Linked DNA regions of Homo sapiens. Changing the gene in region 1 together with any one later gene gives a genetic interaction. Each region holds a gene or a part of one and is shown in the gene's direction. Other genes may lie near its edges.

Evidence for each region.
Region 2: of PPP1CC (region 1) and SMARCB1, changing one enhances a phenotype caused by changing the other (phenotypic enhancement), as found in Homo sapiens cells (one study listed by BioGRID).
Region 3: changes in PPP1CC (region 1) and MAP2K5 together harm fitness more than expected from each alone (negative genetic interaction), as found in Homo sapiens cells (one large-scale study listed by BioGRID).
Region 4: changes in PPP1CC (region 1) and ERBB3 together harm fitness more than expected from each alone (negative genetic interaction), as found in Homo sapiens cells (one large-scale study listed by BioGRID).

The regions. Positions count from the first base shown.
Region 1 is NC_000012.12:110,734,273-110,742,352, reverse strand, and holds part of PPP1CC (serine/threonine-protein phosphatase PP1-gamma catalytic subunit), read left to right. Parts: intron 1-8,080. UniProt on the Homo sapiens protein: Protein phosphatase that associates with over 200 regulatory proteins to form highly specific holoenzymes which dephosphorylate hundreds of biological targets.
Region 2 is NC_000022.11:23,835,008-23,842,859, forward strand, and holds the end of SMARCB1 (SWI/SNF-related matrix-associated actin-dependent regulator of chromatin subfamily B member 1), read left to right. Parts: 3' UTR 1-1,861; coding exon of another isoform or gene 1,862-1,955; 3' UTR 1,956-2,052; coding exon of another isoform or gene 2,053-2,147; 3' UTR 2,148-2,651; coding exon of another isoform or gene 2,652-2,847; 3' UTR 2,848-3,002; downstream 3,003-7,852. Other genes in the region: DERL3 (derlin-3), read right to left, coding at 2,057-2,147, 2,652-2,724, 3,131-3,438, 3,557-3,630, 3,704-3,769, 3,888-3,980.
Region 3 is NC_000015.10:67,642,623-67,650,702, forward strand, and holds part of MAP2K5 (dual specificity mitogen-activated protein kinase kinase 5), read left to right. Parts: intron 1-3,608; coding exon 3,609-3,677; intron 3,678-3,765; coding exon 3,766-3,847; intron 3,848-8,080. UniProt on the Homo sapiens protein: Acts as a scaffold for the formation of a ternary MAP3K2/MAP3K3-MAP3K5-MAPK7 signaling complex.
Region 4 is NC_000012.12:56,093,376-56,100,587, forward strand, and holds part of ERBB3 (receptor tyrosine-protein kinase erbB-3 isoform 1 precursor), read left to right. Parts: coding exon 1-175; intron 176-388; coding exon 389-521; intron 522-723; coding exon 724-814; intron 815-1,026; coding exon 1,027-1,181; intron 1,182-1,881; coding exon 1,882-1,935; intron 1,936-2,289; coding exon 2,290-2,431; intron 2,432-3,127; coding exon 3,128-3,247; intron 3,248-3,372; coding exon 3,373-3,471; intron 3,472-3,669; coding exon 3,670-3,855; intron 3,856-4,409; coding exon 4,410-4,565; intron 4,566-5,124; coding exon 5,125-5,200; intron 5,201-5,383; coding exon 5,384-5,530; intron 5,531-6,272; coding exon 6,273-6,370; intron 6,371-6,462; coding exon 6,463-6,654; intron 6,655-6,798; coding exon 6,799-6,870; intron 6,871-7,212. UniProt on the Homo sapiens protein: Tyrosine-protein kinase that plays an essential role as cell surface receptor for neuregulins.

The DNA.
Region 1 (8,080 bases):
CCGTTTGCCCCCGCGCACTGGACGGGTCTTTGGAGCGATGGTTGGGGATCCCAGTCCAGCCTCCTGGACGACGTGTGCCGTGCTGTGCGAGATGGACTTTTCGGTGCTCGTCCTCTCGGAAGGCAGTTTGATGAGGGCATGAGTTCCGCCGGGTTTGGGGGCTCTTTTCCTGCTTGCTTTTATTTTTATTTTTCGTGGTTCTGGGGTCTTGGGGGGCCCATTTCTTGTTACTTGGTAACAAGCGTTCATGTCTCAAGAGGTGTGAGAACCTGTCTTCGCCTGCCCTCCAAATCCTTTTAAGTTGTTCTAATCTTGGAGAGGTCTCCGCGCTCTTTTCCTGAGCGTGCATCTGAAGAGGAAGCCAACGAGGCTGACGCTATCATTATCTTTCCAATGTGCCAGGCTCTGTCTTAAGCACTTTGCGTCCATGAATTATTACTGTAATCATAACTGACGCTTCTAAAGCGCTTACTGTGTGTCAGGCATTCTTTGAGCACTTAAGACAGATTTCATTTAATTCTCCCACCCATTGCAAGATATTTGCAATTTTTTTTGTTTTTGTTATTTTACAGAAGAAACTGAGATGAAGTCACTTAACCAAGGTCACACAGTTAGTGACAGTTGGATTTCAAATCCACATAGCCGGGAGCTAGAACCCTCTACAGACAACACTGTCACCTTATGTAGGAAGGAAGGTGGCCAGTGGTTAAGTAAAGGTTAATAGAAAGCTTTAAATTTCGGCTCATCTAAGACTTGTGAGGTGCCTGGCAATTGATTCATGTTGATGTGGGAGAGGGGCGAGGTTCAGCTTTTAAAGACGGAAGCTGAAATGAGCTGCTTTCAGATTCAAGGGCATGTCAACGGATGCTAACATCTTATCCAAGACTTTGTAAGAATTCAGTCATATCCCCTAACTTGGACACTTCATAATGGGAACTTGGCAGTTTCAACTGCTTTTTGCCTTTATACAGTCCTAAAATATTGTTGGACTATAAATGCTGTGAGTGGTGGAGTCGAGGGCATGAACAGTTGGACAGCTCTGGTGTTAGAATTTACAGATCTTTTAAAGTAAGTTATTAAAATGAAGCTCCTGAAAATATCTCGTCCTTTTCTTAATCTGTGCATTCTTTCCTTTTATGCTGTCTTTAAAAAAAAAACAACAAAAAAAACACTAAATGTCATTAAGGACCCCTGAAATGCTCTTGAAATGTTATTGCAGGTGAAAACCTTGTATTGTAGGTGAAAACCTTGTCATTCTTTTAATGCCAGGTATTTATATAAGAACCATACTTTTTCATACTAGTTAATATAGTTCTTTAATTTATTCGAGGCAGCAGTTGGTCAGAAACTGATTAAAATAGTTTGCTGTAAGAAAGGAACTTTTTGTTAAATATTTTCTTTCTAAATTTTAAAATTCTGCTTATCTCTGCAGGGATATGTGTGGCTTTATTTCTCTGAGGAAACAGGAAAAGTTGGAATTTGCATGGATTAGAAACATTAGAATTTTAAGATCATCTAAGGCTTGCTAATTTAAGTTCTGGTTTGCCCATAACTGCCTCTATTCATAAACAGCTTTTGTTAATTTTGATCTTTAAAATTGTAATAAGTACTTTGCCTGGTAAGTAATGATACATCTAAAATGAGATCATTGTTTCTTAATAGTTCCTCTTGTTATGTGGCACTTGAAAACCAGGTTTTCTTATATTTCATTTTTTGCTGAAATTAATAAAGCAGTGCATTTTAATGCCTTGGGAATAGGCTAACTGCAAAGTATACTTAAATTTCTTTTTTTCTCGTGGGTGTTAAATTGGCAGAGAAACAGTTGAAGATGATCCATTGAGGATATGTAGATATCTAAGTTAAATGATGTTGGTAATAAATTCTGTTTTACAATTTTTTATTTAAAAAAATTAAATTTAATAATTTAAAATAGAAATGAGAGTCTCACTGTGTTGCCCAGGCTGTTCTCAAACTCCTGGTTTCAAGCAGTCCTCGCACCTCGTCCTCCCCAGGTGCTGGGGTTATAGTCATGAGCCACCGTGCCCGGCCTAAATTTTATTCTTTTCATAATGCCCCCAAAACCTTTTTTTTCCCTAAATAAGATGTAAGTATATCTGAAAGTAGAGGGAATATGACTTGTGACTTTGGCCAGATTTTTTTACGTGTTTAGAATTGATCTTTTAAGCTTGCGAGCAGTATAACCTAGTTGAGAAGTAGCTGAGTAATAGTACTAAAAAGCTAACTGAAAAGTGAAGTCTTAAGAAAAACAGCATGTTGGTTTAGATCTTAGTCACTAACCTTTGCAGTTCTTTTCTTCTCTGAACTCTGAGTATTTCTGTAAGCGAGGCATCACCTCTGCAACCCACCATGGATGCTTTTATCCAAGCTCTGCCTTGCTGATGATAAAACTTAAGGTTGTTAACTCCTTAGTATAACTGATGTTAGTTATTTAAATAACTACACAGTAAAACGGCATTTTGAGAGAAAATAAGCCAGCTGTTGATTTGGTCTGATGTATTGAAGACAAGTGAGATTTGGGGCAGTTTTACTTTGTAAATGACCTCCTTCAAGGAGCCATGGTGGCTAGCATTTTTTTTGCATAGCAGGTGGTTGTAACTTACTTCACATCTTGGTTTGCAAGAAGCATCTTTGCTTTGAAGAAGGCCATTGTCAAAGTGCAAGACCATGTCAGGCTCTGCAGAATTGCCTGACTTGTTTTAGTGATTTAAATATGATCTCTGCCCTGGCTCACAGAAAGTGCTTACAGATTTAATCCTCTGATACATAAGGGTTGTTCTGAAGGTAGGGAGTGTTCAGATATTCTGAAACTCTAAGATTGTTTAAATAACCCATATGTTCATCTTTTTGATGCAGTATAAAACGTTCATATTCTGGTGTTTAGCCATCCCTGGTCCTAAAGATAATAAAGGACAAACATAATGGTTTAAAAAGGGGAAGGTTTCTTAATATGCTAACCAAAAAAAAAAACAAAAGTAATCTTTCCTAATGAACACCTGTAATTATTTATTTTTTTATTTTATTTTGGAGACAGAGTCTCACTCTGTCACCCAGGCTGGAGTGCAGTGGTGGGATCCTGGCTCACTGCAACCTCTGCCTCCCGGGTTCAAGCGATTTTGGTGTCTCAGCCCCCTGAGTAGCTGGGATTAACAGGCATGCACCACCACGCTCGGCCAAGTTTTTGTATTTTTAGTAGAGATGAGGCCAGGCTGGTTTTGAACTCGTGACCTCAAGTGGTCTGCCCGCCTCAGACTCCCAAAGTGCTGGGATTACAGGCATGAGCCACCGTGCCCAGCCTGTAATTATTTGTTTACAGAGCAGGTAATTTTTACACTCACATCCAAGTTGTCAGTTTCTAATTCCCTCATTGATAAGAACTCTGATGTGAGCCCTTGCCCTTCCTTTCCCATCAGTATGTTGGTCATATGCCCACTTCCTCTCCTCCTAGGCAAGGTGGGAAAGCTCTGTTGGAGACAGATGATCTGCAGCTTGCAGGAGTCCTTTTTTAAACCACAGCATTGAAAAAGGATTACTCTCCTTGTGCCCGCAGTGCCCTCTTGCCTGTCAGTAGCAGGAGGCAGCAGTGAAATCTGACAGAATTGTGTGTGACGTTGTGCTTGCGGGGGATGTGACACACAGGAGCGCTCTGCATTCTGAGCCTAGGGTGTTCCTCCTCATAACTGGGCAAATGGACATGCAGTTGTAGCCCAGCAGTGGTCAGCTGTAGAAATTAGTGAGGTGATTTGATGTCTTTGAAAGCACAGTCCTATTACAACCTGTAACCTGTTGTGCAGAATCACAGTACCAGTCAGCCCACTTGACTAGGTGAGGATTCCTGATGGTGAAGCAGGGAAATTATTGATGTTATGTGGACTTCACCATTTAACTTAATTTACAATTGAGGCCATTAGTTGACCTGAGAGATTAAAATATGAAGGAGATAATATTCTGGGTGTCAGTCGCTTTGTAGATAAAGAACTGGAAAGTCATTCAAGACCAAGAAGGAAGGATTTCATTTCCATGGAGCTTATGGAATTCCAGGATAGAGTTTGATATTTTAAGATCATACCTCTGTATCCAAAGCATCAAGAACAGATGATGTGTTTGTGGATCTTGGTGATTTGTCTGAAATCTCCAGCTTCCCCACTTCACTGGGGTTTACTGTCATCCCTCTTCTAGAAGGTAGTGGTCATCACCGACAGTAAAGCTTACAGCAAATGAAAACTCAAAATGTAGTCTACTCAGTGGTATATTACCGAAATGTGTTCTTAGACTGTGAAAATTAAAGTTTTTAATGGATTGGCTTTACTCGAGGTGTAGAAAACTCAAGATGCTTTATTGAGAACAGTAGACAGTGTTTTGCAGCCACATCCTATCTGCCTTGAAAAAAATGGTGTCACTTTTATTTTTTTTACTAGAGACTGGGTCTCACTCTGTCCCCAGGCTGGAGACCTGAACTCCTGGGTTCAAGCGATTCTTCCTCCTCATCCTCTTGGCTAGCCGGATCTATAGGCACACACCACCACACCTGGCTAATTTTTTTTTCTTTTTCTTTTTTTCTTAAAGACAGGGGTGTTGCCTAGGCTGTTCTTTAACTCCTGGCCACAAGCAGTCCTCCCACCTCAGCCTCCCAAAGTGCTGGGATTACAAGCGTGAACCACAGCTCCCTGCCTTGGTGTCACTTCTCAATGCCTGAAGTGTAACCCCATCTGTTAGGAAAATCAGGATGGGAGAGGGCAGGGTGTGGAAACAATTGTGATAATCAGAACATGGAAGTCTTTCTGCTGGTGACTTTGCAGAGAAACTTAAAGGGTTCTTTTTTCTTTTCTTTTCTTTTTTTTTTTTTTTTTTTTTTTTGAGTCTTTCTTTGTCACCCAGGCTGGAGTGCAGTGGCAGGATCTCGGCCCACTGCTGCCTCCACCACCCAGGTTCAAGCGATTTCTCCTGCCTCAGCCTCAGTTGTTGAGTAGCTGGGACTACAGGCATGTACCACCATGCCCTGCTAATTTTTGTATTTTTGGTAGAGATGGGGTTTTACCATGTTGGCCAGGCTGGTCTCAAACTCCTGACCTCAGCTGATCCACCCACCTTGGCCTCCCAAAGTGCTGGGATTACAGGCGTTAGACACCGCATCCGGCCCAAAGGATTCTTGATAACATTTTTGTGGTTTATACTTTTTGCAGAAAAGAACTCAGTCGTTTATGGGAATGCTTAATGTTGGAAGTATTTACTGTTTTTTGTTTTGGTTTGAGTCTTATTTTCCTAAATCTGTCAAATATCATGAGGCTATTGATTTCACTGAAATGAATATGATGTGGCATATTGTTAAAATTATCACCTACTTTTTAACAGGATTATTTTAAAACAGCAAAATCTTCGTTGGCTTATTTTTATACCACTTGTGCCTTTCTTAGGTTCTGAAACTTCATTAGAATTCAGCTAGGGCTTTTTTAGTATATGCTATTTCTTTAATATGTTTTTATTTAAACAATTAAGGGGCCTTTATGTGGCAAGGAAAATACTTTTTTATTCCTTATAAATAATCTCAAACTTGTCTTAAATTTCCTTCCATAGTTTCCATCTTTGCTTTGCTTTTTGCCAGCAGCTAACTTTCAAAAGTTAGTATTGCTTATGAGAAAGAGCTGGTGTTGTAAATAATCACCAATGCTATTTTATTTATTTATATTTTTTGAGACAGGATCTCACTCTGTGGCCCAGGCTGGAGTGCAGTGGCATGATCTCGGCTCAATGCAGCATCTGTCTCCCGGGCTCAAGTGATCCTCCCATCTTAGCCTCCCGAGTAGCTGGGACTACAGGCGCACGCCACCATGTCCAGCTATATTTTGTATTTTTGGTAGAGACTCAATTTCACCATGTTGCCCAGGCTAGTCTCTAACTCCTGAGCTCAAGTGATCCTCCCACCTCGGCCTCCCAAAGTGCTGGGATTATAGGCCCAAGCCACCACATCTGGCTGCTATTCTTTTATAATTCAAATTTTTACCAGTTTGTTTTCAATAAAAATGTGTGGAAGTTTTTATTATTGCTCGTGTCAGTGATTTGCCAGAAAAATAGATCAGATACATTTCTACAGAGCAACCTTCGCTTTTAACAGTAATAATACGTTTTCCTGAATCTCCCTTTCTAGCCAGATAAAGAAATATTAATACTTCTACTGAAAAGTCACATCCTTAGGTCTAAGTTGGTGTTGCTTTTTTGTTGTTGTTTGTTTGTTTGTTTTGAGACGGAGTTTGTTTGTTTGTTTGTTTGTTTTGAGACAAAGTCTTATTCTTGTTCCCCAGGCTGGAGTGTGATGATGCGATCTGGGCTCACTGCAACCTGCCCCGTGGGTTCCAGCGATTCTCCTGCCTCAGCCTCCCGAGTAGCTGGGATTACAGGTGCCTGCCACCACGCCTGGCTAATTTTTGTATTTTTAGTAGAGACGGGGTTTCACCATGTTGGCCAGGCTGGTCTCGAACTCCTTACCTCAGGTGATCCGCCCGCTTCGGACTCCTAAAGTGCTGGGATTACTGGCATGAGCCACCGTGCCTGGCCGAGACGGAGTTTCTTTCTTGTTGCCCAGGATGGAGTGCAGTGGCACAATCTCGGCTCACTGCAACTTCCACCTCCCAGGTTCAAGTGATTCTCGTGCCTCAGCCTCCTGTGTAGCTGGGGTTACAGGCGTGCACCACCATGCCCAGCAAATTTTTGTATTTTTAGTAGAGATGGGGTTTCACCATGTTGGCCAGGCTGGTCTCGAACTCCTAACCTCAGGTCATCCACCCATCTCGGCCTCCCAAAGTGTTGGGATTACAGGCATGAGCCACCGTGCCCAACCTTCTCCTTTGGTTTTGAAGTTCAATGTAGAACAGATTCTTAATTGGGAATTAAGAATGCACCACTAGATGTAGCATCGCGGCCTCGTGTCCTTAAGCTCTGTGACCTTGGACTAAGTCACTGTAAAATGGGAGATGACAGTGCCTGACTTCCTAGGATCGTTGACAGGATTGAATGGCAATATAAAGCCCTTAGTACAGTGCCTAGTGGATAAGTGCTCAGTAAATGTTAACTACAACGAGTAAATAATTCTGTTTGATGGACATTGAAAATAGTGAAGTGGGCCAGGCACGGTGGCGCACGCCTATAATCCCAGCTACTTGGGAGGCTGAGGCAGGAGAATCACTTGAACCCAGGAGGTGGAGGTTGCAGTGAGCCACGATCGCATCACTGCACTCCAGCCTGGCAACAGAGTGAGACTCCATCTCAAAAAAAGAAAGAAAAAAATAGTGAAGTGAATTTGTATGCTTTTGGCTGATATGGCAACTTTTTTTTTTTTTTTTTTTTTCTTGAGATGGAGTCTCACTCTGTCGCCCAGGCTGGAGTGCAGTTGCACGATCTCAGCTCACTGCAACCTCCACCTCCCGGGTTCAAGCGATTCTTCTGCCTCAGCCTCCGCAGTAACCAGCCACCACGCCCAGCCTGATATGACAACTTTTAAGAACTCTCCAGTGTTCACTTGGACTGCCAAGCCCCATTTGAAATCTCTGTTAGACAATTCAACGTGAAATTTAAGAGTAATTCTAGATTTTCATACTTTGAAAAATACTCCAGTAAAGCCTGGTAAGCAAGTGGCCCTATTGTTTTATAATTTTATAGTGCAGAAACAGGCTTTTTGCTCATCAAAAGTATATAGTCTGGGCTGGGCACGGTGGCTCACACCTGTAATCCTGGCACTTTGGGCGCCGAGGCAGTGGATCACCTGAGGTCGGGAGTTCGAGACCAGCCTGACCAATATGGAGAAACCCCATCTGTACTAAAAGTATAAAATTAGCTGGATGTGGTGGCGCATGCCTGTAATCCCAGGTACTCGGGAGGCTGAGGCAGGATAATTGCTTGAACCCGGGAGACGGAGGTTGCAGTGAGCCGAGATCGTGCCATTGCACTCCAGCCTGGGCAACAAGAGTGAAACTCCGTCTCTAAATAAATAAATATATAGTCTGGAATATATGTTTAATTCTAATGCCACCAGTCAACACTACTTAAAGACTTATCCAGATTTCAGTCA
Region 2 (7,852 bases), on another chromosome or scaffold:
AGTGGCACCCATAGCCAGGTCAGCTGGGGCCCTTTCCCACCCCAGCAGGTGCTGTGGCCTGGGCCAGCTCCTGCCTTACAAGCCAGCTGTGAGGAATATGGGAATAGCCCTCCCGGCCTGGTGCCAGCTCTTGGAGTTGACACGGTACAGGGAGGAGACACAGCCCAGGGTCCCTTCCCAGCCCTGCCTCCAAGGAGTTCATGTCCCCTCTGTTCTCATCTGTAATAGGGAGGTGTCCCCATTCTTCAGAATGGACACAGGATCTGGGAGGGCAGCAAACTGGCTCGCAGCTCCAGCCTTACTGAAGAGAATGGGCACAGATCCGGGCACAGATCCCAGCACAGACTGCTGCCACCCTCAGCTGTTGGCAGGTCCCATGCTGCCAGGGCAGGGCTAGGGTCAGAGGCTGCTGTGCTCCCTGGAAGTGGGGTAGGGCCCCATGTGGGGCAGAGGCAGAGCTCTGATTAGGGATTGGGGTTCTTGGTCGCTGAGATGTGAGAGGAGGGCTCCTTTGAGCACATGTTAGCATGGGACTCTTCCCAGGGAGTTTGCACTCAGGGCCTCTGCCCTCCATCAAAGAGTGGAACTCCCCAGAGCCCCATGCACAGCAAGGGGACAGCTGGGCCTTACTGGAAGGCCTTGAACAAAGGGGAAGATTCCCAGCCCAGCTGCTCTTAGACATGAACAGGTTTCATTGCTGAGGTGTTTGTTCTGTCCATGAGGTAGGAACCTCGGCAATGAAAGGGTGAGGCAGCCCTGTGTCTCCACAACTGGGGGGATGGAAGGAACCTTGGCTGCCTCACCCCACAGGTCGGGCAGGGCCACCTGGCTGGGAGGTGCCGGGAAGGCTGGGCCCTCACTCCTGACCGCCAGCTCACACCGCCGCAAAGCCATCTCCACAAGGTCTGGCTACAACACGGAGGGCAGACTCAACAGAGAACAGTGTTGTTACCATGAAAATGACAACCTGTCTTTGGAGGAGGCCCCGTGCCACTGAGCATCCAGAAATAAACCACAACATGGACAGGCTTAGAACAACAAGGAAAGCTGCCAGGTCAGAAGAGAAAAATGAGCCACAGGGGTCGGATAAGGCTCACACACGTCCTCAGCTAAAAAGGGCAGGAACAGAACCTTCCAGAAGTCCCTGCCTCACCCAGTCTCAGAACTCTGCTAAGGTGAAAACTTAGGCTCTGAGGTCATAGAAAGGGCAGAAGACCTAGTCCTGGCCCTCTTCTGCACCTGAATCCATGGGGCTTTGGCATCACCAGATGAAAAATGAGGCATACGCCCACCTGTCAGGGTGGCTGATGAGAGACAGGAGAGGCTAGATTGGCATCAGCCTGAAGGCACCACTGGCAGGAACATCTGTAGGCTGGTTTGGCACAACCTAGGAGACGCCTGTCCTGGCCCCAGCAGCCGAAATCTGGTGAACTTCCCCGCTGACTGGCAGGTAGCAGAGGCCTATGGTGGGCAGGACTTGCCCAAGGCCCTGGTGGGGCCAGGATGAGAACCCTGAGCCTGTCACCTGTGAGCTCAAAAGCTCTGCCTGGCAACCTGTGAGCTCAAAGCTCTGCCAGGCAACCATGGGCAGTTTCTTTGCCCTCTGTGGGCACCCCTATCCTACCACCTGCAGTTGGGCTGAGAGGCCACACTGAGTGAGGACGGGGCAGGCATAGAAGGATGTGGCCAGGTGAGATGGGGAAGCCAGTGCTGTGGGCCAAGAGACTGCAGCTCATTCTGTTTATTCAGGTGGGCCCTTGCATGGGCCCAGCCTTTAGGATGGGTTTTTTCTGCCCCAAGTAGGGGTCATGGGTAGGATGGAAGCTGCCAGAAGCCTCTTAGGCCTGGCCCTGGGTGGGGGTCACTGCTGCGGGGGTGGCAGATGGGGTCCTGGCTGTTCCTCAGGGAGGGGCAGGTAATTGGGGTCTTCTGCAGGGGCATCCAGGAGCAGCTTTCTGTGGGGAGGGGCCCGTGTTGAGCACAGGCCAGCACAGGTCCCCATCGGTGGGGATCCTTCTGAGGGTGGGGAGAGGGAGGGAGGGCTCTCAACACTCACAGGAAGCCAGGGGTCTGCAGGAGCCTCTTGCCTCCAGGCTGGTTGGGGAAGACGTCCTCCAGGAAGTAGTAGATATGGCCCACCGCAATCCCTGTGAGACAGCCACGGACTGTGGGGTCACCCTCCACAGCCCAGAGTCCTAGACCAGCAGAGCCTGCCCCAGGCCCCCATCCACAGCCTGGTGGCCCTGCAGGCCCCACAGCATGAGTGCCCCAAAGCCTTGCACAGAGTGCCAGCCCCGGGTTGGCCGTGAAGGACAAGCTTAAAAGGCCCAGAAGCAGGCAGGACCCAGGGAGGGGAGGGCCTGAGAATAGTGGAGGAGTGGGAGCCATGGGGCAGGAACCCTGACCCTCCCATCCTCACTCCCATCAGGACCGTGCAAGCATCAGTAGATCCGTCCTGACGATGCAAATTATGTGGGCCGGCTGGCTTGAGGGGCTGTAAGAGCACAGCAGCTGGGAGGGCAGGAAGATGGGGATGGAGCCAGGTGTGAGGAGAACTCCAGCAAGGATGGGAGAGGGGCCCCAGGGCATAAGCAGCGTGTCCTGAGGGGAGTGGCCAGCCTGGGGCGGACTAGATGTACCGGGAGGCTCACCCAGCAGGTCCACGAGGATGGAGTTGCCCAGCAGCAGCGAGAAGCCCATGAGCGCCCAAGGCAGGAACGGTGCCTGGAAAGTGAGCAGGCCGAAGAAGTTGACCCTCACCCGAGGGCTGCGGCGGCTCCACACGTACACCAGCATGGCCATGAGGGCCTGGCCCAGGAAGAACAGGCTGCCCAGGAGTCCCAGCAGCTGGGCCAGAGTCAAGGTGCTCCGGTGCAGGCCTCAGCCCAAGCCCAGGGCCCCTCTGACTTCCCAAGACCCTGGAATTCTTCCCCTCATCTCCCCTATGTGCTATTCCCTCATCAAGATGAGCCAGTCCAATAAAGGCGACACACTCCACGGGCTTCAGGTCCCACGAAATCTGCCCTGCACACCTACAGCCTCATCCCAGGGCCCAACCACTGCCTGTCCCTGCCCCAGTTTCTCCCGGCTACTCGCATTCAGGGCTCAGCTAGTGGCCCTGACAACCCACCTGGCTCTTTTGTGCATGGCTTTGTATTTTGCATACAGCACTGAAGATCTAGCCCTGACCCCTGCAGCTGAGCACAGAGTGGGCCCTCAACACATACTAAGCTGGAGACAGCGACTGTGTCCCTCTCTGGCATGGCTGTGTTGGCCCCAGGACCAACACAGGCTGGACGCCGAGGCGCCCTAGCCCGAGGTTCCAGAGCCTGCGGGAAGGATACGGTCATAAGGACGCCCCCGAAGAGAAACATGAAGACGAAGTCGGCCGTGCGGCCGCGGAAGGAGCCCTCTTCCAGCATGCGGCAGTAGCGGAACCTACGGCGTCGGTATAGGAAGTGCCACCAGGCGGGGCCTCAGTTTCCCCGTCCCGGCCTCTCTCCCAGCCCGGCCGGCCTGCCCTCCACCCAGCCCGTGTCCGCAGGGCGCAGGATACACGAAGAGCATGTTGAAGAAGAAGCTGAATCCCAGGGGCCCGAAGAAGAGGAAGTTGGTGACGAGCCTCCAGACCTACGGGGGACGGGCGGTCAGGTGCGGGGTGGGTGGGTCGGGCCCACAGGTGCGCGGCGCGGGGCGGCCTCACCTGGAACTTCCGGAACACAAGGTGCGGGTTGAAGTAGAGTTGAAAGGGGCTGAGGAGCTCCAGCTGCTGTGGAACCAGGGGCCAGTCAAGAGCTGCCCGGGAGCCACGCCGTAACCATGGCGACCCTCACCCCTCCCGCCAGAGGCTGTAACCAAGGCGACGTCCGGTCCGCCCGGCCGCTTACCACCGCGGCGGTGGTGAGGACACAGGCTGCGGTGTAAGCCCGCGTCACCGCCGGCACCTGCAGGAACTCGGCCGCTAGTCCCTGCCACGCCATTGAACCTTCTCAAGCACGCGTGGCCCAGCCAGCAACGCGCTCTTTAACCCGCCTCCCAGCCCCGCCTTCGGCCAATCCGCATCCGAGGCGCTGCGCGCCCCAGGCTGAAAAGAGAGCCCCTGAGCCCGACAGCCAATGGAAGGAAGAAGAGGGAAATTAGGGGCGGAAAGGGAGAGTGGGCGGGTAGAGGCTGGTGGCCAATGGGCAGGCGCCAAGGTTGAGCACGTGGCGGTTGTTGTGGCTGCGGTGGTGGCGCGGGAGAACGTGTGGCCAATGAGGAACTGGTCATTTCGCGGCTTTCTAGGAGAGGACCAGTAGCGTGGACCCACGACACCACGGGGGCGGGGCTAAGATCGTATGGGTTACAGGAGCGAAGACCCGAGCAGGCGAGGCAAAACTGGAAAGGGCGGGGCGCGTGGGCGGGGCGCGGAGTGTGGCGGCTCAGACCGTGCTGGCTCACTAACTGACGACCTAGCCACAACGTTGTCCTCGCTGCCAGCCCAAGACAGGCCCACCTAACCCACAGCAGGGAGGCATTCGGGAATGTGTCCAAACCTCCCCAAACGTCCAGGGCCCCACTCAAATGTGCCGGCCGCTGTCGGGGTTCTTCCCCGGGGGCCCAAGGAAGGAGAGGCAGGACTGCGGGATTGAGTCCAGGTGGGGCGCGAGGGTTGAGAGGCGCACCAGAGCAAGTGGACAGGCAGGAGAGGTCCTCAATATTTTGGTGGAAAATAGAAACCAACCTACCCACCTTCCTTCCCTCCTTCCCTCCCTCCCTCCCTCCCTTCCTTCCTTCCACCGTTTATTAAACAACTGTTTGCCTGACACTGTTCTAGATGTTGGGGATGTAGCATGCAATAAAAGACACTGTCTCTTAGAGTCCAGCCAGGAGGCAGTCAATACAATAAGCTAGTGCTGACACTTGATGAGAATATTGCCAAGTGAGGGGTGGGGCCACGTGGGCGTCCGCAGTGCCAGGTGGGGTGACCTGGGATACCTCTAAAGTTTGTCACTTTGCAAGCATCCCTGTGTCCATCAGGATGGTAACTGTGAAAAGCAAAACAATAAAACAAAATAAGTGTTGGCGAGGATATGGGGAAATTGGAACCCTTGGGCACCGTTGGTGGGAATATAAAATGGTGCATCCGCTGTGAAAAACAATATGATCATGACTCAAAAAATTAAAAATAGAATTACCGTATGATCCAGCAATGCTGCTTGTGGGTACACATTCAAAAGAATCAAAAGCAGGGACTTGAACAGATGTTCATACACCCATGTTCATGGCCCCATTATTCACAATGGTTCACATCAGTTCACCCACCGATGAGACAGACGAAATGTGCTGTCTACATGCAATGCAATACCATTCAACCTTAAAGGAATGAAATTCGGATACATGATGCAGCATGGATGACCCTTGAAGACATTACACCCAGTAACATAAACCAGTCACAAGGCTGGGCGCAGTGGCTCACACCTGTAATCCCAGCACTTTGGGAGGCCGAGGCGGGTGGATCACCTGAGGTCAGGAGTTCGAGACCAGCCTGGCCAACATGGTGAAACCTCGTCTCTACTAAAAATACAAAAATTAGCTGGGCGTGGTGGCGGGCACCTGTAATCCTGGCTATTCGGGAGGCTGAGGCAGGAGAATTGCTTGAATCCGGGAGATGGAGGTTGTGGTGAGCCGAGATTGCACCACTGCACTCCAGCCTGGGCAACAGAGTGAGACTCCGTCTCAAAAAAAAAAAAACCAGTCACAAAAAGACAAATACTGTATGGTTCCACTTATATGAGAGGGGATCAGGGAGTTATTGTTTAATGAGTGCAGTTCCAGTTTGGGAAAATGAAAAAGTTCTGGAGATGGATGGTGGGGAGGGTTGCATAAGAATGTTTAATACCACTGAACTGAACACTTGAAAATAGTTTGGACAAATTTTATGTTGTGTATATGTTACTAAAATTTAAAAAAAAACAACAAACCTCTGTGTTTGCTGTCAGGGTAGTGGACTGCCAGAGGAATCCTTGAGCAGGGGGAATCCTTAAGGGACAGTGATTACTTTCGGGGCTGGGAGGTGGAACCTGGAGGACAAGGAGGGGTGGGATATGGGTTTGCCTACAGACGGGACAGGGCTGAGAGGGGAGTCCAAGTGGATTCAGAGGCCTGAGCCGCAGAGTGGTTGGATGGTGGTGGTCTTTGTTGAGATGGAGGGCTCGTGGGGAGAAGGTGAGGGGCATAGAGGGTCCTGTTCTGGACTCATCGAATTTGAGGCATCTGTGTGACATCACTTGGAAAAATCTGAGTGTGGTGTTGGGGTAGGGGTTGGAGCAGACAGTCTAAATGTGGGTGCCGTCATCCAGTAGTAGATCAATGGTATTTGTAGCTTTGGGCGTGTGTGAGATGCTCAAGGGGCAAGGGTTGATGGAGAAAAGAGGCCAGGCCTGGGTAGCCTGACCTGCAGTAGCCAGGGAGGGAAGGCAGCCCCAGCTGGGGAGGCCAAGGGAGGCTGAGCCAGGAAAGGGCTTCAGGAGCCAGGCAGTGAGAATCCAGGGAGACGTGGCCCGGGAAGGGACTGTGAATTGCAGCCATGCCAAGGTTCCTGGTAACCAGGATAATGGCAGGCAGGAGGGAGAGGAAGGCACACAAATGGATGTGCCTTAACAAACAAGGGGAGTGCAGCCTTGGAGGGAAGTGTGGAAAACGAGGGATGCTCTGGACAGGGCCCTGAGGTCCCCCGAGGAGACTGGAACTGGCCAAGAGGGAGAACTGGCTGAGAAGGCTCTCAGGTGGATCCCAAGAGCGTGAGGGTCCCACAAGGGCCCTGAGAGGGGTTCCCTGGGGAGTGGGGTGAGACCAGTGCCTAATGACAGTGGGTTCAGGAGCCTTCCTCCCTGCTCTGGAGGGGACGGGGAGAGCCTGGAGTGCTGGAGGGAAGTGCATTTGCTGGAGGGATGTGAGGAGAAGGTCTGGCCTCATACAGCAGGGGTTGGACCAAGACACTGAGGGGTTGGGGGCTGGGAGCAGGGTGAGCGGACCCCCGCAGACAACCTTGGTTTTCCAGCAAAGCAGGCTAAGGTCATGTTGGAAGCATGCCAGGCAGAGCAAATCCCACCCTGGCAGCCACAGTGTGCAGCAGGGCGGGGACCCAGGGCCTCTGACGCCTGGGCGGGCGCCCGGTGGGCACAAAGGAGCCGGTGCAGGAGGTCGGGTTTCATGTCAGCGTGGGGAAGGGGAGATATTCCTCCTCCAGGCACTTAGCAGGCGCTGGCCGGCCCTCAACTCAGGGTCAGGCTGGGGCTAACAGGAGGGGATGTCATTGTCGACAGGGGCGTCTGTCTCCCCTTCGACTGGGGGCCGATAAGGCAGGCGCCCAGATTGGGGGCTGAGAAGCACATTCCTGGGAGGCCAGGAGCCTGGGGCGGGTGGGGGAGGCCAGCCAGGGCTGGGAGGGAGGACATCCAGGGAACAGCAGCTGGGTCCACTGCAGAGGCTCCCTTTCCGGAGCCCCGGGATATCCTCAGATGGGGGAACTGAGGCACGTAAGGATGCAGAACAGGGCCTGGGGCAGACCTCCATTCTTTCTTGTCCAGTCTGAGGCCCAGAACAGGCCACTCTGGAAATACTAGGTCCACTTCTCCTTGGACCCTTGAGCCCCTCCAGATAATTCTTTATAGAGGGAAGCCCTGGGCATCCCAAGTTCCCAGGGTCCTAGAGATGCAGGGTGTGCCTTACCCTAACATCAGGGTGGCAGACCTGTCGGCTGGGCCAGCCTTCTTTCTCCTGTGCTGAGGATGGTGGGTGGGTGGAGACCTGTGGTTCCTCGGCAAGGTGACAATGGGCTCTGCTCCCCATGCCACCTCCCTGGCATTGT
Region 3 (8,080 bases), on another chromosome or scaffold:
GCTGTAAGTAGGGAAAGCACAGGATATGTGTGTACACCAGGAAATGTCATCTGATTTCACATGAAGGGTGGGTTTGTGGTGGGAGTAGTGGGAAGAGGAGTTAGAATAAGTTGTCTATATTGTGGAAGAATTCCTTGAATGTCATGCTAGAGTTTTAACTTTATTGTAGGCGATGGGAACACATTAAGGTTCTTGATCAAGGGAATGATATATTCACAGCCAGTAGTTTGGGGTTAATTCCAGGAGGGTGGCTAGCAATGTGGAATCATGTCATTTCTGGGTTGTTGGTGGCCTGGAGATGCAATATATCTTAATAGTCATATATCTTAGCACTGAATAAATGGCTTTTGAAACCTTAAATAAGTGATTCTCAACCTTACTTTGGGTTAGGAATTACCTGGGGAGCTTTACAAAATAACAAAGATGTGGGCCCAACCCAAGGGATTCTCATTCCATTGTTTTGGGGTAAAGCCTGCACCTTGGGATTTTTTTCAAGTGCCCTAGGTATTACGATATGAGGCCAGGGTTGAGAACCATTGATTTAAGGTTAATAATAACTTCATTCCTTTTATCAGACTTTTTTAGAGTGAGAGATTCCTGGTACTTGTCATCATAGTAGGAATAGCTGTAGTATTTTATGCTATAGGATTGAACTGATGCTAGATGAATTAATTTTGTTGGTAAGTTTTACACAAAAACAAAAATGTAAGTGAATATTGTTGGCAAGTGACTATTGATCAGGAGAAGTGTTTAAATGTTTCTTGGCAGTTTTGTATTACACTTACAGTCTAGTTTACTGAGATCTTATAAATAACCCCAAAGCAAACTCTTTTATTTTTTTTGAGACAGAGTCTCGCTCTGTTGCCCAGACTGGTGTGCAGTGGCGTGATCTCAGCTCACTGGAAGCTCCGCCTCCTGGGTTCACGCCATTCTTCTGCCTTAGCCTCCCAAGTAGCTGGGACTACAGGTGCCCGCCACCACACCTGGCTAATTTTTTGTATTTTTAGTAGAGATGGGGTTTCACCGTGTTAGCCAGGATGGTCTCGATCTCCTGACCTCGTGATCTGCCCGCCTCAGCCTCCTCCCAAAGTGCTGGGATTACAGGCGTGAGCCACCGCGCCCAGCTGCAAACTCTTGATAGAAACCACCTATGCCTTTTTTTTCCCCACCTTCCGCTTCCCCAAATCAACGCCTGGCCAATGTCAGGACTATAAAATGTACTTTAGAATTGTCCTTTTCTTTCCTTGCTCTATTAGCAGTTTATAATGCATAACTTATGCTTTTTTCTTCAGTATGATTGTATATATATTCTTCAGTTGTAATACAAAATGTAATTCAAAGTTGAATGCTACATAACTACACTATCATAGTAATTCTGAATGTTAAGTTTTTATCTAGAAATGTCTAGAGCCAGAAACTCTGCCACAAATCATAAAAATTGTTTTCCACCTATTCTATTCTCATCACTGCCTTTTAAAAGTAAAAAACAAGCTGGGCACGGTGGCTCACGCCTGTAATCCCAGCACTTTGGGAGGCTGAGGCAGGTGGATCACCTGAGGTCAGGAATTCGAGACCAGCCTGGCCAACATGGTGAAACCCTGTCTGCGCTAAAAATAGAAAAATCAACCGGGTGTGGTGGCAGGTGCCTGTAATCCCAGCTACTTGGGAGGCTGAGGCAGGAGAATGGCTTGAACCCGGGAGGCGGAGGTTGCAGTGAGCCAAGATCGCGCCACTACACTCCAGCCTGGGTGACAGGGCAGGACTCCATCTCTAAATAAATAAATAAATAAATAAAACAATTACTCTTGAATTAGTTTCACTGACATGCTTAGTAGAATTTGAACAGTATGGTCTTCTTTCTTAAAAAAATATGTGTTTGAAATAAACTAGAATTTATTCTAGATAAGTTTATAAATATTTTATATTTATGGGTTATAAATCACTGTGGGTAATATCACTCAGTGATTGATATTTTAAATAAACCATAAAGTACTGAAAAGCCCATGAGACTGAGTCCAGAGGAGGGGGTCCTACCATTCCCAGGCTCTGTGGCTCCCAGGAGGGAAACGTGGTTTCCTCCTCACTCAAAAGAAGGGAGTTAATGAAATAAGATTTCTTCAAGCTTTAACTTTCTGTAACAGGATTAGCAAAGAACATTACCTGACTGGAAAAAAAAAAGATGATATATTTTTAAAATTCCTTATTTCTCTCATAACTAAAAACCCCACTTAAAATGTTATTTTTGGCTGGGCATGGTGGCTTACGCTTGTAATCCCAGAACTTTGGGAGGCTGAGGTGAGCGGATCATTGAGGTCAGGAGTTCAAGACCAGCCTGGCCAACATGGTGAAACCCCATCTCTACTAAAAATACAAAAATTAGCCAGGTGTGGTGGCAGACACCTGTAATCCCAGCTACTCAGGAGGCTGAGACACGAGAATCGCTTGAGCCCATGAGACAGAGGTTGCTTGAACCCAGGAGACAGAGGTTGCAGTAAGCCGAGATCATGCCACTGCACTCCAGCCTGGGTAACAGAGCAAGACTCTGTCTCAAGAAAAGAAAAAAGTTATTTTTTGGCCAGTTGTGATGGCTCATGCCTGTAATCCCAGTGCTTTGGGAGGCTGAGGTGGGCAGATTGCTTGAGCTCAGGAGTTCGAGACCAGCCTGAGCAACATAGTGAAACCCCCATCTCTACCAAAAATGCAAAAAATTAGCTGGGTATGGTGGCACACCTGTGGTCCCAGCTACTTGGGTGGCTGAGGTGGGAGGTTTGTTTAAGTCTGGGAGGCAGAGATTGCAGTGAACCAAGATCGCCCCACTGCACTCCAGCCTGGGTGACAGCATGAGACTGTGTCTCTAAATAAATAAATAAAATGTCATTTTTATTCATCATCCTCTCTGCTTATTGCCTAGTGTCTGATCACAAACCACAAGATAGTTCTTTTTTTTAAGAGACAGGATTTCTCTCTTTCACCCAGGTGGGAGTGCAGAGGTGCAGTCATGGCTCACTTCAGCCTCAAATTCCTGAGCTCAAGTGATCCTCCCACCTCAGCCTCCCAAGTAGATTGGGACCACCCGATCATACTACACACAGGTAATTTTTTTTTTTTTTTGTAGAGATGGGTTCTCGCTATGGTGCTTAGACTGGCCATATACCCCTGGCCTTCAGGTACCCTTCCACCTCAGCCTCCCTTCCAGAGTGCTGGGATTACAGGTGTGTGCCACTGCACGTAGCCAACATAATTCTTTTATATTGGTTTGAGGGTCATTCCTATGCTCCTCTTTTGAAAATAGCCAATGTGGCTAAAATAGAGTGCATAAATTAAGAGTGTTATAACTTAACTGACTTTTAAAGCCATTACTATTGACCTTTGAGACCTGGCTTTTTTCTTTGGTCCCATCAATCACTTCTGTACCACCTCCCCCAGTATAGAAGGACAAAAGGTTAGACAGATGCAGATACAGCTTGTATTACTGGGAATTATAGTGGTAAGAAGAAGGAGGTGGGGAAGAATAAAGGAACTACCATGTTTTTAGTTCTTATATTTCATAGTGATTATAACTAATATAATTAGAAGATTAAAAAATATTAATACCTTTCTATATTTAGGTCATACTACTAGATATTACACTGGAACTTCAGAAGCAAATTATGTCTGAATTGGAAATTCTTTATAAGGTAATTTTTTCATAATTTTTATTTGTAAAGCATGCCTATGGTATTGACTTGCAGGTTTATAACTACTTTTGTCTTATTTTTGTTACAGTGCGATTCATCATATATCATTGGATTTTATGGAGCATTTTTTGTAGAAAACAGGATTTCAATATGTACAGAATTCATGGATGGTGAGTTTTCCCTTTTATAATACTTTTAAAATGATTTTTAGAGTATATAGTGCTTTAAAACCTGGTTTTGATATAGATATCAAATAGAATTAAAGATAATAAAATATGCTAATAATTACCTCATTTATACTCTAAGATTATTTCAGTGTTAGGGGTTCCTGGGGTTAAATATTTATAGCCGAACTGTAATTTTAAGAATTGAACTTCACTTTTATTGAAAATTTAAATAGAACAGATTAAATGCTAGTCTAATTGGTGGTTTGATATTTGATTCTTTTGCACAATCTGTCTTTACTTGCAAAACAGATGTTCTGTTCTTTTAATGTTTCAATAGCCAAAACAGATTTTCTTTTAAAGAAATCTATTAACCCAATGTCCTGTGTCTTTCAGAAAGAAATCGGTTCTTAATTGCAAGATAAGAAATTGTTTTTCAACACAGCTGTTTAGCCAAGATGTGTTTAATTTTCTTTGGACTTTAGCCCTTTCCTTCCCTCTCTATTTTTTTATTCATTTCTATTTTGGTAGTTCTTTCTTGACCTGAATATTACGGCAAAATACAGATTTCTAGGGACATATCAGTGAAATGATGTCATCATTATTATTATTTACCAATTTTAAATCTAAGCAGTCTTTAAATTTTACATATTCAGTTTTCCATAGTCTAGTCCATTAAAACACAACTTAAGAAAATATTGTTAGTTCCTTGTGGAGATTCTCAGTACATTACTAAAGCAATTAGTTTGTGCCCTGCAAAACTTTAATGAGCCAACATTGGTACCTTGATACTGTCATAAGGTGTACAACATGCTCTAAATTAGTTATAGTAGAATGTCAAAAATTAAAAATCTTACAGCCATATAGGTAAGTATGGTAACTGTGGAGACTGACCAGAAAAAGTGGATTCATTGAGCCAGTACATGTTACTGTGTTGTAACTTTTATCATTCTTTCTTTGAAGTCTTCAATTTTTCAGTTCTACTCAAACATTTTTGTTGAAACAGGGCACGGTGGTTCACGCATGTAATCCCAGCACTTTGGGAGACTAAGGTGGGAAGATTGCTTGAGCCCAGGAGTTTGAGACCAGCATAAGCAATATAGTGAGATCTCATCTTTACAAAAAAATTTTTAAAAATATGGCCGGGCACGGTGGCTTACTCCTGTAATCCTAGCACTTTGGGAGGCCGAGGCAAGCGGAGTTTGAGACCAGCCTAACCAACATGGCGAAAACCCGTCTCTATAGAAAATACAAAAATTAGCCAGGTGTGGTAGCGCATACCTGTAGTCTCAGCTACTTGGGAGGCTGAGACTGAGAATTGCTTGAACCTGGGAGGTGGAGGTTGCAGTGAACCAAGATCGCGCCACTGCACTCCACCCTGGGTGACAAAGTGAGACTCTGTCTTAAAAAAAATAAAAAAAGGAAAATTAGCTAAGCATGGTGGTACGGGCCTGTAGTCTCAGTTACTCTGGGGGCTGAGGTGGGAGGATTGCTTGAGCCCAGGAGATTAAGCCTGTAGTGAGCTGTGATCGTGCCACTGCACTCCAGTCTAGGCAACAGAGTGAGACCCTGTATCAAAAAACAAATAAATTAAAATTTTTTATTGAAATATAACTCAGATACCATAAAATTCACCCTTTAAAAGTGTACAATTCCATGGTTTTTGATATACTCACAAGGTTGTGTAGTCATCACCACTGTATAATTCCAAAACACTTTTTACCACCCCCAGAAAGAGACTTCCTACCTATTAGTACTCACTCTCTACTTTCTCTTTCCTCAAGTCCTTGGCAACCACTGATTTATCTTCTGTCTCTATGGATTTACCTATTCTGGACATTCCATATAAATGGAATCTGATAATATATGGCCTTTGTGTCTGGCTTCCTTTACTTAGTATAATGTTTTCAGTGTTCATCCATACTATTGCATATATGAGAACTTCATTCCTTTTTATTGCTGAATAACATTTCGTTGTATGGCTATACTACATTTTGTTTATTCTTTCATTAGTTGATGGACATTTGGGATAGTTCTACTTTATGCATAATTATGAATAATGCTACTCTATATATTTGTGTACAAGTTTTTGTGTGGACATACGTTTTCAGTTCTTTTTTTTTTTTTGAAACAGAGTCTCGCTCTGTCGCCTAGGCTGGAGTGCAGTGGGGTGATCTCGGCTCACTGCAACCTCCACTGCAACCTCCACCTCCTGGGTTCAAGCGATTCTCCTGCCTCAGCCTCCCGAGTAGCTGGGACTACAGGCGCGTGCCACCATGCCCAGCTAAGTTTTGTATTTTCAGTAGAGACAGAGTTTCACTGTGTTAGGATGGTCTCGATCTCCTGACCTCGTGATCTCCCCGCCTTGGCCTCCCGAGGTGCTGGGATTACAGGTGTGAGCCACTGCACCCGGTCAGTGTTTTCAGTTCTTTTGGGTATATACCTAGGAGTAAAGTTGCTAGGTCATATGGTAGCTTTATGTTTAACTTTTTAATAAACTACCAAACTTTTCCAATCTGTTTTACACCACTTTGCATTCATACCAGCACTGTATAAGGTTCCATTTTCTTCATATTTTTGCCAATACTTGTCATTTTGTGTCTTTTTAAAATTGTGGGCTTGTAGTGTGACATGGTATCCCATTTTGGTTTTGATTTAGGTTTCTCTAATGACTAATGATGTTGAGCATCTTTTCATGTGCTTATTGGCCATTTGTATACCTTCTTTTGAGAAATATGTTTTCAAATCCTTTGTCTATTTTTTAAATGAGTTATTGGGCTTTTATTGTTGAGTTGTGAGAATTCTTTATGTATTCTAATACTTGGCTCTTATCAGATATGGGATTTCCAAATATTTTCACTTATTGTTTATCTTTTCACTTTCTTTTTTCTTTTCTTTTCCTTTTTTTGAGCTGCGGTCTCATTATGTTGCCCAGGCTAGTTTTGAACTCCTGGGCTCAAGTGATCCTCCCACCTCAGCCTCAAGTTTTATTGTTTTAGCTTTTATATTTAAGCCTTTGATTTATTTTTGAGTTAATTTTTATATATGGTATGAGATAGGGGTCCAAATTTATTCGTTTGCATGTAGATATACATTTGTTCCAGTACCGTTTGTTAAAGACTGTTTTTCCCATTGAATTTTCTTGTTATACTTGTTGAAAATTGACCATAACATATATTTCTGTACTTTCAGATCAATGCGTATACATCTCGCATTGATCTAGTTGTCTATCTTTGTACCAGTACCACACCATATTTGATTACTTGTACTTGAAAACTCTGGATTATTATAGTTTTTAAGTTTCAAATCGAGAAGTGTAAGTGCTCCAACTTTGTTCTTTTCAAGATTGTTTTGGCCATTTTGAATACCTAGCATTTTCATTTGAATTTTAGAATCAGCTTGGCAATTTCTCCAAAAAAATCCAGCTGGGATTTTGATAAGAATTGAATTGAATTTTTAGATCAACTTGGGGAATATTGCTGTCTTAACATTATTTAATCTTCCACTCCGTGAACACAGATGTCTTTCAACTTACTTAGGTCTTCTTTAATTGTTTTTCAATGATTTAAAAATAATTTTTAGGGTATAAGTGGTAACTATTTGTTAAATTTGCTTCTAAGTTTTTTTAATGCTGTTTTTCTTAATTTCATTTTTGGATTGTTCATTGCCAGTGTATAGAACTGTAATTGATTTTTGTATATTGATCTTGTATTCTGCAACCTTGCTGAACTTGTTTACTAATGTTAATAGCTTTTTGTGGATTCCTTAGGGTTCTCTATATACAAGATAATGCCATCTGCAAATAGAGGTAGTTTTAGTGCTTTCTTTTCAATTCTGAATGTCTTTTATTTCCTTTTCTTGCTTAATTACCCTGGCTAGAACCTTCAGTACAATGTTGAATAGACTGATGAGAGCAGACATCCTTCTCTTGTTCCTGACCTTAGAGGGAGAGCTTTCAGTCTTTCACCATTAAATATGATGTTAGCCATGGGTTTGGAATAGTTGTCCTTTGTCAGGTTGAGGAAATTCCTTTCTATTTCTAGTTTGTTGAGTTTTTTTTTTTTTTAATTATGAAAGGGTATTAAATTTTGTCAAATGCCTGTTTTATATCTATTGAAATAATCGTGCATATTTGGTCCTTTATTCTATTAATATATGGTATACTATATTAATTGATTTTTGCAAAATGAACCAGTCTTGCAGTGTTGGAATTATTCCACTTAGTCATGATGTGTAATT
Region 4 (7,212 bases), about 55 Mb from region 1:
TTGAATGTCACATCTCTGGGCTTCCGATCCCTGAAGGAAATTAGTGCTGGGCGTATCTATATAAGTGCCAATAGGCAGCTCTGCTACCACCACTCTTTGAACTGGACCAAGGTGCTTCGGGGGCCTACGGAAGAGCGACTAGACATCAAGCATAATCGGCCGCGCAGAGACTGCGGTGAGGGAAAGGGTCTGCTAGGTGGTGAGAATAGGGAGTCAGGGAGGAGAGGGCTGAAAGGACTATTCTGCCCTAGACGTGGGAGTAGGGTTGAGGGATGGAACCAAGGAGAAGGGGGCTGTTAGGCTGGAAGCAGTAACGAGGAAGAATAATGAAGAGAGGGCTTGCTGGGAGTCCTCAGACTCCTCTCCTAACCCACCCCTTCCTTTCCAGTGGCAGAGGGCAAAGTGTGTGACCCACTGTGCTCCTCTGGGGGATGCTGGGGCCCAGGCCCTGGTCAGTGCTTGTCCTGTCGAAATTATAGCCGAGGAGGTGTCTGTGTGACCCACTGCAACTTTCTGAATGGGTACAGTAAGGGGAGCCAGTCAAGGATGGGTGGGGGTGGGGCCCTGCAATGGAACTGTTCAGGTGGCATACAATAAAAGTCTTTAGACAGCTTTCTGCATGTGCCTTGGTGGGATTGAGGTAGGAGACCTGTGGTTGTGAGATCGGAGCATGAAGGTCAGGACTTGGAAGTGACCCCCCCCTCCCTTTATTCCCCACTACAGGGAGCCTCGAGAATTTGCCCATGAGGCCGAATGCTTCTCCTGCCACCCGGAATGCCAACCCATGGAGGGCACTGCCACATGCAATGGCTCGGTATACTAGTAGCACCAGGATCTCCAAGGGAGACAGAGAAGGGGCAATACTTGGAGCATCTGGGGAATGATATGGCTAAGGATAGCACAGAGAGGCCAGATAATGCTAGGGCCTGCAGATAGAAGATCCTGAATGTCTGGGTTGGTCTTTGCTGGGAGGTATGGAATTGACCTTGGGATCTGATTCTTCCTGACCTTCTCTCTTCCACTCAGGGCTCTGATACTTGTGCTCAATGTGCCCATTTTCGAGATGGGCCCCACTGTGTGAGCAGCTGCCCCCATGGAGTCCTAGGTGCCAAGGGCCCAATCTACAAGTACCCAGATGTTCAGAATGAATGTCGGCCCTGCCATGAGAACTGCACCCAGGGGTCAGTGATGGGATAATAAGGAGAGGGGGTCAGGTGGAAGGGTAGGAGCACAGAACTAGAGTGAGGGAAGCAGAAAGAAGAGAGAGGCTGTGATTCAAGAATCACTCCCAGCTGGCCGGGCGCAGTGGCTCACACCTGTAATCCCAGCACTGTGGGAGGCCGAGGTGGGTGGATCACCTGAGGTCGGGAGTTCGAGACCAGCCTGACCAATATGGAGAAACCCTGTCTCTACCAAAAATTTAAAATTAGCCCGGCGTGGTGGCGCATGCCTGTAATCCCAGCTACGCGGGAGGCTGAGGCAGGAGAATTTCTTGAACCCAGGAGGCAGAGGTTGCGGTGAGCTGAGATTGCATCATTGTACTCCAGCCTGGGCAACAAGAGTGAAACTCTGTCTCAAAAAAAAAAAAAGAATCACTCCCAGCTGTGTAGCGAAGGATTGGAGAAAGGGAAAATCAGTAACAGCACAAAATTACACCACAGTTTTGGGAACCTGGAATAACCTCAGTTCAAGGGAGTTTCACAGAAGAGGGGCTTGGGGAGAGCTAGTGAGCTGGAGGTGGAGGCCATGTCTTGGGATCAGCTCTGGGCTCCAGGATGGGATGCCACGGTAAGTTCTGAAACAAGCTTTTATATGTTAGGCTGTTGAAATTGAGCCTCTGCTGTCCAAGCTCTCATTTAAGGTGGTGACTTTCTTCCCTAGGTGTAAAGGACCAGAGCTTCAAGACTGTTTAGGACAAACACTGGTGCTGATCGGGTATGATGGGGTTGGAGATTCTGGAAACTGGGGATATTTGGGAGTTGGGAGAGAGGTGGTTACCTGGAGAGAAGAGGGAGGCTGTCTTCATTCTGGCCTTTTATGTATGCAGTCCACTATCACTGGACACTTGGGACTCAAGAATGCAGGCTTCTGGACTTCCCTTCCTAAAATTAACTTTCAGTAGTCTAAGACTGGTCCAGATTTAGGTTGGTCCCTTCAGTGCTTAAGGATATATATGTGAATGTTAATTTCTTGCCCCAGGTCAGCATCATACCTTCAACACAAGTATAGTTGACATTTGTAAGGAAGATGCAAACCCAGGATAATGTTGGGTTTCTATATATCCCATAGCAAAACCCATCTGACAATGGCTTTGACAGTGATAGCAGGATTGGTAGTGATTTTCATGATGCTGGGCGGCACTTTTCTCTACTGGCGTGGGCGCCGGATTCAGAATAAAAGGGCTATGAGGCGATACTTGGAACGGGGTGAGGTGAGTACTTAGCTTACTTTTGTTTTTTCTTTTCTTTTTTTGCATGTCCTGGAAGTCTCTTTATAGCTTAATTTTGAGTGGTACCCTGTGCACCCAGGGGTCAGTGATGGGATAAATGTCACTCCCCTCCTCTTTCCCCAGAGATTTGATCCCTTTCTTCAAGGAAGTAGTGTGGTCCCCTAGAAGAACACTGGTCAGAGAAATGGGAGGCATGCATTCTAGTCCTGATTTTGCCATTAATTTGCCACATGACTTTGAAGAAGTTACTTATCTTCTCTGTGCCTCGGTTTATGCATCTATACAGAGGAAATAACATTTGTCCTTCCAGGATGGCTGTAAGGGTAAAGGGGGATGATGTATGTGAAAGTGCTTTGGAAAGCACAGAGCACTGTATAAAAGGTACTCAAGGTGGTAATAGTACTACCAACTCTCCCTAGCTGTCCCCTTCCCCACTTTGTGCTCCTCCATCAAAGGGAAAACCCAACCCCTTTGATTCCTGATCTCATGAGCACAAATAACTTCCTCAGTTCTCAGGGTCTGTACCTCAATATGCCTATAATCCATTCCAGGACTAACGGTGCTTCCTCTTCCTGCCCTTTCAGCTGTGCTGCTTTTGGCATTCACCTATGAGGAGCGGGTTGGAGTGGGACATGGGAATGGCCTTTCCTGAGTAACTCCTTCCCATTTGCTCCTCAGAGCATAGAGCCTCTGGACCCCAGTGAGAAGGCTAACAAAGTCTTGGCCAGAATCTTCAAAGAGACAGAGCTAAGGAAGCTTAAAGTGCTTGGCTCGGGTGTCTTTGGAACTGTGCACAAAGTGAGTGACCCATAGGAATTCTGGAGAGGTGGGGAAGGCATCTAGGGCAAAGGGGTGAAAGATTTTTGCATAGGATTGACCTAGGGAGAATGACCTTATGCCAACTCCTGCCCCAAACTTCCCAGGGAGTGTGGATCCCTGAGGGTGAATCAATCAAGATTCCAGTCTGCATTAAAGTCATTGAGGACAAGAGTGGACGGCAGAGTTTTCAAGCTGTGACAGATGTAAGTGAAGGAAATTCTGTATGCCGCTAGGAGAGAGGACAATATTAGATACAATCATGTAGAAGCAGGGTCCTGTGCTTCTCAGCAGCTACTATGTTAGCCAGAATGTTGGGGGTGGGGGGGCCTGGGCTGGCTGTGCACATGCTGAGTGTATGTGAACCTGTTGGTTTCCTAGATAATACCTTTTGTGTCTCTTAGCATATGCTGGCCATTGGCAGCCTGGACCATGCCCACATTGTAAGGCTGCTGGGACTATGCCCAGGGTCATCTCTGCAGCTTGTCACTCAATATTTGCCTCTGGGTTCTCTGCTGGATCATGTGAGACAACACCGGGGGGCACTGGGGCCACAGCTGCTGCTCAACTGGGGAGTACAAATTGCCAAGGTGAGAGAAGCCTGGAGGAATTCTGTGATAAGAACTGCTTGTCTGGGGGCCAGCCAGGAAAAAGTGAGAAGGTTGAAGTTCTGAGAGGTGAGGTCCCCAACCCCCGGGCTGCAGACTGGTACCAGTCCATGGCCTGTTAGGAACCAGGCCACAGAGCATGTGAGCGGCAGGCAAGCGAGTGAAGCTTCATCTGTATTTACAGTCAGTCCCCATCACTTGCATTACCGCCCGAGTTCCGCCTCCTGTCAGATCAGGGGCAGCATTAGATTCTCTTAGGAGCTTGACTTCTATTGTGAACTGTGCATGTGAAGGATCTAGGTTGTGCACTCCTTATGAGAATCTAACTAATGCCTGATGATCTGAGGTGGAAAAATTTCATCCCAAAACCAACCCTCCCCTTCCCCTGGAAAAACTGTCTTCCACAAAACCAGTCCCTGGTGCCAAAAAAGGTTGGGGACCACTGCTGAGAGGTACCTTCAAGATTTGGGGGAATTCCAGATCTCAGTGACTGATTCCCCCAACCTTAAGAATACTTTCTTCCCCTATACCTACAGGGAATGTACTACCTTGAGGAACATGGTATGGTGCATAGAAACCTGGCTGCCCGAAACGTGCTACTCAAGTCACCCAGTCAGGTTCAGGTGGCAGATTTTGGTGTGGCTGACCTGCTGCCTCCTGATGATAAGCAGCTGCTATACAGTGAGGCCAAGGTGAGGAGACACAAAGGGTAAGGAGGCGGGGGTGGAGTGAAGCATGGGGATAGGGAGCAGCCAGTGGTCTCTTCCAGAGGCAAGCAGATGCTTCATGGTAAGTTCAAGGAGAGAAGGCTGCAGATGCCAGATATTTTAGTTCAGAGGGCAACAAATAAAATAATGATCAAGAACTTGGGACTGGCCGGGCGCGGTGGCTCACGCCTGTAATCCCAACACTTCGGGAGGCCAAGGCGGGTGGATCACAAGGTCAGGAGATCAAGACCATCCTGGCTAGCACGGTGAAACCCCGTCTCTACTAAATATACAAAAAAAAAAAAAATTAGCCAGGCGTGGCGGCATGCATCTGTACTCCCAGCTACTCGGGAGGCTGAGGCAGGAGAATGGCGTGAACCCAGGAGGCGGAGCTTGCAGTGGGCCGAGATCGCACCACTGCACTCCAGTCTGGGCGACAGAGCGAGACTCCGTCTCAAAAAAAAAAAAAAAAGAATTTGGGACTTGGAAATCCTAAGAAAATTTGTGGAAATAAACTTGTGATACCTCTATCTTTAATCCGCAGACTCCAATTAAGTGGATGGCCCTTGAGAGTATCCACTTTGGGAAATACACACACCAGAGTGATGTCTGGAGCTATGGTCAGTGCATCTGGATGCCCTCTCTACCATCACTGGCCCCAGTTTCAAATTTACCTTTTGAGACCCCCTCTTAGAATCTCTAAGCACTTCAGATTTTTGTGTTAGATCAGGTTCTGCCTTCCCTTCACTTCATGCCCATGTCTACTATTTTGCCAGTGACTAGTCCATGTCTTCCTGCAACAGGTGTGACAGTTTGGGAGTTGATGACCTTCGGGGCAGAGCCCTATGCAGGGCTACGATTGGCTGAAGTACCAGACCTGCTAGAGAAGGGGGAGCGGTTGGCACAGCCCCAGATCTGCACAATTGATGTCTACATGGTGATGGTCAAGTGTGAGTTACCTGCTGAGCCCAACCATTTTCTCTTTTTTTCTTTTTTTTTCTTTTTTTTTTTTTTTTGAGACAGAGTCTCACAATTGTCACCCAGGCTGGAGTGCAATGGTGCAATCAATCTTGGCTCACTACAACCTCCGCCTCTCGGGTTCAAGAGATTCTCCTGCTTCAGCCTCCGGAGTAGCTGGGATTACAGGCGCCCGCCACACCTGGATAACTGTTACACTTTTAGTAGAGATGGGGTTTCACCATGTTGGCCAGGCTGGTCTCAAACTCCTGACCTCAGGTGATCCGCCTGCCTCAGCTTCCCAAAGTGCTGGGATTACAGGTGTGAGCCATCATGCTCGGCCTGACTGCAGCCATTTTCTGACTTCCCTCTGTACTCCTCTTATGGCTCTATTCCTTTTTTTTTTATGGAGTCTCGCTCTGTTGCCCATACTGGAGTGCAGTAGCGTGACCTTGGCTCACCGTGACCTCCACGTTCCAGGTTTAAGTTCTTCTGTCTCAGCCTCCCAGATAGCTGGGACTTTAGGCGTGCACCACCACGCCCAGCTAATTTTTTTTTGTCTTTTTAGTAGAGATGGGGTTTCACTATGTTGGCCAGGCTGGTCTCAAAGTCCCGACCTCAGGTGATCCACCCGCCTTGGCCTCCCAAAGTGCTGGGATTATAGGTGTGAGCCACCGCGCCCGGCCATGGAATGTATTCTCTTTTATGTCTCTACCTCCTACATCTTATCTCCAGGTTGGATGATTGATGAGAACATTCGCCCAACCTTTAAAGAACTAGCCAATGAGTTCACCAGGATGGCCCGAGACCCACCACGGTATCTGGTCATAAAGGTGAGTAGGGAGTAGGAGGTGCTAAGGAAATTTAGAAAAAGGAGGAGTTGGCTGGAACCAGGATTCCCCCTAACAATCACCTATCGATATAGAGAGAGAGTGGGCCTGGAATAGCCCCTGGGCCAGAGCCCCATGGTCTGACAAACAAGAAGCTAGAGGAAGTAGAGCTGGAGCCAGAACTAGACCTAGACCTAGACTTGGAAGCAGAGGAGGACAACCTGGCAACCACCACACTGGGCTCCGCCCTCAGCCTACCAGTTGGAACACTTAATCGGCCACGTGGGGTAAGACAACTTCTAATTACCCAACACTTTGCACCCTGAGCCCTCACAAACCCTACAGATACCCAGATTAACTACTCAAAGGCCCCCATGGTGAATGTAGATTTCTCCCTTCATCTTAACCTTTTCCTTATTTTTTCATCCTAGAGCCAGAGCCTTTTAAGTCCATCATCTGGATACATGCCCATGAACCAGGGTAATCTTGGGGAGTCTTGCCAGGTAAGTTCTGTTGCTGAGAGGCTGGGTTTTAGGATCAGATTGATACGAGTAGTATGGAAGACATTAGAAACCTCTGAGGTTTAATCAGTGTCCTGCAAAAAAGAAGGCAGTGAGGGCCGGGCGAGTTGGCTCACACCTGTAATCCCAGCACTTTGGGAGGCCAGAGAGAGTGGATCACCTGAGGTTAGGAGTTTGAGACCAGCCTGGCCAACATGGTGAAACCCCGTCTCTACCCAAAATACAAAAATTAGCTGGGTGTGGTGGTGCACACCTGTAATCACAGCTACTCAGGAGGCTGAGACAGGAGAATCGCTTGAACCCGGGAGGCAGAGGTTGCAGTGA